2 linked regions of the Homo sapiens genome follow. The protein of the gene in region 2 interacts with the protein of the main gene of each other region in a pairwise test. Each region holds a gene or a part of one and is shown on either strand. Other genes may lie near its edges.

Region 1 (3,818 bases), on a different chromosome or scaffold from region 2:
TGCACTCCAGCCTGGGCAACAAGGGTGAAACTCTGTCTCAAAAAAAAAAAAAAAAAAAAAAAAAAGAACCCGTGAAATACTTTGGAATAAATCTGACAAAATATGTGCAAGACTTAAACACCAAAAACTACAAAATACAATTTAAAGATTTAAAGATTTTGAAGAAGATTTTAAAAATAGATATTATGTTCTTGGATTAGAAAACTCAATATTGTTGATATGTCAATACTCCCCAATTGCTCTATAGATTCAGTGCAATCCCAACCAAACTTCCAGCAGACTTTTAAAAATGGAGTCTTTATTATTAACTACTTCACTATATTGCATTCTTTTTAAACTGTGTTTCCTTTAGTTAGAATAGTCTTCAGCAAAGTTTGGGCAGAGACAGTAGATTTGGTAGAGAAAATGAATCACTCTCTTTTTATAGACTGGGTAGGAAAATAACAGAGGAAATAACTGTTCTCCCCAGGGATGGAGAGTTTCCATGCCAATTTTCACAACTGAAAGATGCTCCATAATAATAGCTCTATTGGGCCAGGCATGGTGGCTCATGACTGTAATCCCAGCACTTTGGGAGGCCGAGACAGGAGGATAACTTGAGGTCAGGAGTTCGAGTCCAGCCTGGCCAACATGGGGAAACCTGTCTCTATCAAAAAATACAAAAATTAGCTGGGTGTAGTGTGGCAGCACACACCTATAATCCCAGTTACTTGGGGGTCTGAGGCATGAGAATTGCTTGAACCCAGGAGGCGGAGGTTGCAGTGAGCCAAGATCATGCCACTGCAACCACCGCAATCCAGCCAGGGTGACAGAGTGAGACTCTGTCTAAAAAAAAAAAAAGCAAAAAAAAAAGCTCTATTGGTGTTTTAGTATTTGGGTGTTCTGTGCTGTACTTACTTCTGTAGTCTCAGAAAGATATTGATATACGATGGAACAAAAATCATTTTCTTATTGGTAAGTATTCCATCTATCAGACTTCTTACGACTTCATCTGTCTCCAATACAGGCCATAATCTGTGATTAAAAAGAGGAAAATATTATTTTTATTTTCTAAAATTTTAATTTTATAAGTAAATGATGGCAGGAAAATTATCCTATATTTTTACTAAATTTAGAATGAAGATTTAAAATATTCCAGGATTTGCTGCATTAATGCCACCCTACCCACTTCCTCCACATCCCATGTTGATGTTTTGTTATCAGAAACTTATACTTTCATATCCAGTAGGTGTGTTTCATAGCTCACTTAGTCAAAATATCAAAATGGTGGCGAGGCATTAGATGGTAAGGAGTAGTGGAGCCAGACAAGAAAGAGGAATGGCTAGGATTAATCATGGGACAGGAAGGAAACATCTGACATCTCAAAGCCTGTTGGATGCAAGGAGAAAATTCTATAGCTAAGTATACTTTCTTTCTTGTGGAGGTATTCCATAAAGCTGGATTGTTTTGAGGTCGTCATTTTGTCAGAGGCGTTTAAATCAGAGCAACTCCATCTTGAATAGGGTCTGGGTAAAATAAGGCTGACACCTACTGGGCTGCATTCCCAGGAAGTTAAGGCATTCTTTGTCACAGGATGAGATAGGAGGTTGGCACAAGATTCAGGTCATAAAGACCTTGTTGATAAAATAGGGTGCAGTAAAGAAGCCGGCCAAAACCCACCAAAACCAAGATGGTGATGAAAGTGACCTCTGGTTGTCCTCACTGCTCATTATAAGCTAACTATAATACATTAGCAAGCTAAGAGACACTTCCACCAGCACTATGACAGTTTACAAATACCATGGCAATGGCAGGAAGTTACCCTATATGGCCTAAAAAGGGGAGGAAATCTCAGTTCTGGGAATTGCTCACCCTTTTCCCGGAAAACTCATGAATAATCCACCCCTTGTTTAGCATATAATCAAGAAGTAACTCTAAATACCCTTGGTGGAGCAGCTCAAGCCATTCTTCTCCATGGAGTAGCTGTTCTCTACTCCTTTACTTTCCTAATAAACTTGCTTTTGCTTTGCACTGTGGCCTTGCCCCGAATTATTTCTTGCGAGAAATCTAAGAACCCTCTCTTGGGGTCTGGATTGGAACCCCTTTCCGGTAAGAATTTCGTATTTGAGATTCACCTCTGACTTGCCTATCCTGCAGTTTAATGAGAATTTAAGAGGGGCCCAAGGAGTATGACAACTGGAGGTATGTCATACTTCCAGTTTTCCTTATACTGAAGGCTGTGTACATGTACTCTTGAGAAATATTCATAAACATAGGCTTAGTGTAGAATTGTCTGTTAGTGCAAGATGATGACAGAAAAATGGATTTAAAATGTTGTATTCAAATTAAGATGTCCAGGCATGGACTGAACAGCCAGTGAATGTAAAGGCTGGGTGAGGAGTTAGGGAGCCAGCGAATGTTAAAACTTCATTCCCTGGGATGATCTGTGGTTTGCTGCAGATTATTATGTGATTGAGTTCTCCACTGCCTTGAATAGCAAGCCAACAGAGAGTAATACAAATCAATACATTTCTAAATTACTCCGTTCTGCCCTTTCTCTCCCTGATTTCATCTACATGGATCCAACAACCCAGCCTCGGAGCCAAGTGTGACATTACATATCAATGCCTTAGCCCTTACTAAGGAAATTCACAATCTAGCAACCTCTATAAAATCAATCCCAAATATTTAGCATTGCCTGTGTCTACCTCTAAGTTAGCCCCCAGGAACCCTGTACCCAGAGTTCCATTATCCTTACTCCCCTCATCTATCATGCCTTCCCCAAGAGTGGCAGGATACCCTTAGGAAAGCTCATGGTACACGAAGCCTGAATGCCTACCAAGAGGGTTTTTATTGGGCCCAATTCCTTGTCTAAGAAAACAATCAGGAGTTGCAATAGTACTATAGTATTTACTTACATATTGCATACTTATTAAGTACTGTGAGACAACGTAGCAAATGTAAGAAGCCACGTTTACTCACTTCTGGTTGTCAGCATAATTTCACAAAGTCCCTGACTCTGTGACAATGTGCAGCTCTCTGGAAAGATGCTTTGAAGACAATACAGGATAGAGCACATGGCCCCCACTATCAGAACAGTTCAACTGAACCTCTCTAAAGGGCTGCTCTCAGGCTATAGGCCTCCGACTGTAGTCTTCAGTAAGGCTTCTAAATAAAATTAACACCTTTAATTCTTTTTTTTTTTTTTTTTTTTTTTTTTTTTGAGACGGAGTCTCGCTCTGTCGCCCAGGCTGGAGTGCAGTGGCGCGATCTCGGCTCACTGCAAGCTCCGCCTCCCGGGTTCACGCCATTCTCCTGCCTCAGCCTCCCGCGCAGCTGGGACTACAGGCGCCCGCCACCACGCCCGGCTAATTTTTTTGTGTTTTTTAGTAGAGACGGGGTTTCACTGTGTTAGCCAGGATGACCTTTAATTCTTTAAAAACTTATTTTTTTGGCCGGGCATGGTGGCTCACTCCTGTAATCCCAGCATTTTAGGAGGCCAAGGCAGGTAGGACACCTGAGGTCAGGAGTTTGAGACCAGCCTGGCCAACATGGTGAAACCCCGTCTCTACTAAAAATACAAAAATTAGCCAGGCGTGGTGGTGGGCGCCTGTAATCCAAATACTCAGGAGGCTGAGGAAGGAGAATTGCTTGAACCCAGAAAGGCGGAGGTTGCGGTGAGCTGAGATCGCGCCACTGTACTCCAGCCTGGGTGACAGAGTGAGACTCTGTCTCAAAAAAAACAAAAATAAAAACAAAAACTTTTTTTTTTCTTTAGTCAACAGTACCTATGGTCTAACACCATGAAGGACTCCAGTGGCAGGGAGTGATTCCAGCTG
Region 2 (3,818 bases):
CCTGTAGACACCAGTGTGCTGGGGAGGCAGGGCTGACTCTTCTCAGAGCCCCAGTGCAGCTGTACCATCCCCTGATGAGGGACTCATGCTCCCCACCACCCCATGTACTTTCTTACCATTTGCCTTCTATTCTCCACCAAGTTGATGCCAATAATTCCTAAGAAAGATCCAAAGCCGAGCTAAAACCAAAGGAAGAACGAGAGAGAAACACTCATTAACGTGCCTAGAAGCTTAACACTGACATTTAAAGCAAATAATCCCGCCCTCAAAGGCATTTTATCCAGGGACGAAGGCCAGACATCCCTACCTCAAGAACCTCAACCACTGAGCAGCAGGTGCGTCTGCTGGCGTTGGGCAGGCATCTCTGCAACATCACCTGTCCTGTCTTCTCTGCTCAGAGGTTTTTAATGATGCATCTGTTTGGCTTGTGACTCTGGGGTAAGAGAAGTTCCCACTCCTCCCCCAGAGACAACATCTTTTCGGGAACCCAGGGCCACCAAGCACCACCATCTGTCCCGTCTTCTCCAGGCCTGAGATGCCCCTGAGCATGGCTCCTGGGTAAGGTATTAGGGAACTACAGCCGTGTTTCAAAAGAAGGGTTGCCAGGCACAAGGGCCACCAGTGACCCCTGCTCAGACGGCCTAACTCTGGTTGCTGCTTCGGGAGAGTGAGCAGGGCAGACCGTTAGCAGGGAGGTGCCAGGTGTGGGGAAAGGGCACCTGAGCCAGGCACAGAGGGGGCACCTGGGCCAGGCACAGAGGGGGCCCCGGGCTGCAGCACAGGCCACCAGGGGTCCGGCAGAGCCCCCTTACTCCACAGGAAGCCCCAGCTCTGGGCAGAAAATGATACTGGGATGTCGGGAAATAGACATGGGACTGTGCTGTCTTAGAACAGAGGCCACCGGCCGGGCATCCGCACCCTCCACCCAGGGCCCGTCCTGGCAGGTGACGCCCACCTGGCAGAGGAATTTTTAAAATCAGTGTGAAGAACATGCATTTCAGCAACACCCACCGAAAATCTGGCTCAGAGCAGCCAACATGGACCTGCCAACGACCGTGCCGAGGCCTAAGACGGCTCTTGCTCCCACGCAGGTGCGCCGGGCCGGTCGCACTTCCCAGTGAGTGTCTGTTGGAAGGGGTGGCCCGCCCGGCACAGCCTTGGAGTTGCTGGGGCCGTGGTGTCAAGTTTAATGCACTGGAAACCGGACTTCTTTATGTAAATAGTTTTGCCTTTTCTGTAATTGTCTGTGTGTCTGTGGTGATAGACACGTACACATGTGGCTTTCACCAACGGTTTGAGAATTCTCCAGGGATAACAGGAATATTTCTTCATGTGCTGAGCTTCAAAATACTGCAGTTCAACTCCACACGTCAAAAATATCAAAATTTCACTTCGATATACATGTATTAAAATACATCTGTTACACTACGTTTTATTTTTTGGGGATTTGAAAAAAACCACACCTTTCTTGAAAATGTGGAGATGTTTTCACGTTCTGGCCGCTTCTTCTGAGATCAGCTTCTTAAGTCTCTACATTGGCAGAAAGTCTCCACAGAAGTGACTCTTAGCCACGTTTCCTTGAAGCTGCTTTTATTTGTTGTCTCCCTAGTTTGCTTTCAGAACTGTCTGTACTACAGGCCATTTCAATCTGGTCAGCACAGCATTAATTCATTGCCCAGAAGGTAGATTCTTTACAGAGCATAGCTTGGGCATTAGCCATTGATGTTTTTCATTATGTTATTCTGAGGCAGCTCTTAAATAAGCTTGAGGACAAACCAAAAAAAACAACCACTCAAGGCTGATCTTGATGTTTCGCAAATCACTTGGAGGTCCCTCCTCACAGCCACTTGCCCTCTGGGCTCCCCTTTCTGCCCAGGAAGCAGAAAAGCCCCTCACATGAGGCCAAGGTCCCCACACCATTGGCCTCTTGCAATTTTACTGATAAAGCTTTTTCTGCATAGATACTATTTGTATATGTTTATTCATAAACTATACACAGGTAGATAGTGTAGATGTCTAAGGCACACCCTAAGATATAAACAAAGGAAAATATAATGGTGAAATAAACAGTATTTGTAAAATATTTCTAAATACTTAGGGCCAAAAATCTTTCATCTTTGCTGATTGTCATCAATATTATTACCAATCTTGGTAGTACTTTAGGTGAGAGTAATGAGATTGAAGAAGCCGCATTTTAAAATCTTGCTTTAGCACTTTATGACGTAGCAACCAGGCTCTGGGGCATGTGAAGGGCATCGCAGCTGATCCAAGCCATTCCAACAGAGGTTCACTGTGCAGAATGCAGGCACTTAGGAGAATTCTTTTACTAACGACAGAGGATGTAATTTCATAGTTCAAAAAACCTTGATACTTTTGAATCTGGGTGACCAATTCTTGCCAATTAGGTTACCATCAATTTACCTCGCCGCCTTACTGTTCAAAATCTGGCCTGACGGGTGGATGAGGTCAGCACCACCACCTTCTGGCCGTTCCCACGCGATCACGTCACTAATACGATCTTTGACCCACGGCTTCTTGGTAGGAATCGTTTAAAGTTACTTTCCCCTTCCATGGGCTATGGTGGTCGACCTGGTCCCTCAGGGTAAAATCCTTCCAGGATGCTTGGGGAGGCTCTGTCCGGCCTTTTTGGACATCCTGGGCTCCTGGCCCCTCCTCCACCTTGGACATTTCCTGTTGCCGGGCTCTGGCCCCCCTCCTGCCCTCTGGTCACCCTGTGACCACATCGGGCCAACCCAGACAATGGAGGGCACCTGGCCCTATTTTGAGATCAACTTGGACCTCAACCCCAATTCCCCTCTGCCTTGGACCTGCCACTGTCCCAGGTCCTGGGGATTGGGAAGTGCATGTCTGTGGGGGCCATAACCCTGCCGACCACAAGCACTGATCGAAGCCTCCCCACCTTCAGCCCCAGCCCTGTGAGCTGGCGTGGACTCCACCCTGAGAGAGCCACACACCACCCTGCCCTCCCCGGCCCAGGCCGCCCGCCCGGCGCACTCACAATGATCCCTGGGTAGTAGCCCCCAACGGTCACATTCTCCGTCCTGGTGGTGGCAGCCAGCCCGACGGTGACTATGAGGACGGACACCAGCAGCAGAGACCCCACAAACCAGAGCGACGTCTTCTTCCTCCTCGAAAGCCCTTCTGTGGGGAGGAAGGCGAGGACCTGTCAGTGAGGGCTCAGGCTCAGGAGGGCGTCAGGCCAGCAGGCTCTGGGCCGTGCTCCGTTACCCAGGGGTCCTGGGATGCACTATCCCCGCCTGCCTCCAGGCCCACCTCAGGGGACCACCCCCAACCTCCATTAGATAACAGAATAAAATCTCTGGACCATAAGCCACTATACTGGATAGCCTGGTATTTGCGGCCAAACCTAATTCTAACTGTCACAGAACTCAAGAAAGCAAACTAGAAAGGACTCCTTCCTATTGGCTGCCTCTTCCTCTATCTGACTTTCTCCCCCTGGTGTCCCCAGGAGGACAGGAGCATCTTTTGTTTACTGTTTTATCATTACCATTCGCTCACAGACACACCCTCTCTATCCGCCTATCCCAGCCACACCCAGTGGGGGAGGGGGCTGCCACCAGGGGAGGGGCAGGGAGAGAGGAACGCACACAGCAGCCATCCAGCTGTGCCATCTGTTTTGCTTTATTTTTTGAAAACTGAATCATCTTGATCCCTGTGTGACTCCAAACAAAATAGGGGATTTAAAAAACCATGGTAAGGTCTTCCTACTCCAAGAGTTTGAAAATCAACATTTGTGTGTGTGCACATGTGTAAGTGCGTGTGTGCAGGGAAAGCAG

Evidence for each region.
Region 1: the proteins of TMEM255B (region 2) and HSD17B13 interact in binary tests that used the Homo sapiens proteins (3 or more experiments, as listed by UniProt).

Annotation. Positions count from the first base shown.
Region 1 is NC_000004.12:87,309,346-87,313,163, forward strand, and holds part of HSD17B13 (17-beta-hydroxysteroid dehydrogenase 13 isoform A precursor), read right to left. Parts: intron 1,015-3,818; coding exon 898-1,014; intron 1-897. UniProt on the Homo sapiens protein: Plays a pivotal role in hepatic lipid metabolism. In vitro, it catalyzes the oxidation of a variety of lipid substrates, including 17beta-estradiol, retinol, retinal, and leukotriene B4.
Region 2 is NC_000013.11:113,765,459-113,769,276, reverse strand, and holds part of TMEM255B (transmembrane protein 255B), read right to left. Parts: intron 3,163-3,818; coding exon 3,020-3,162; intron 180-3,019; coding exon 117-179; intron 1-116.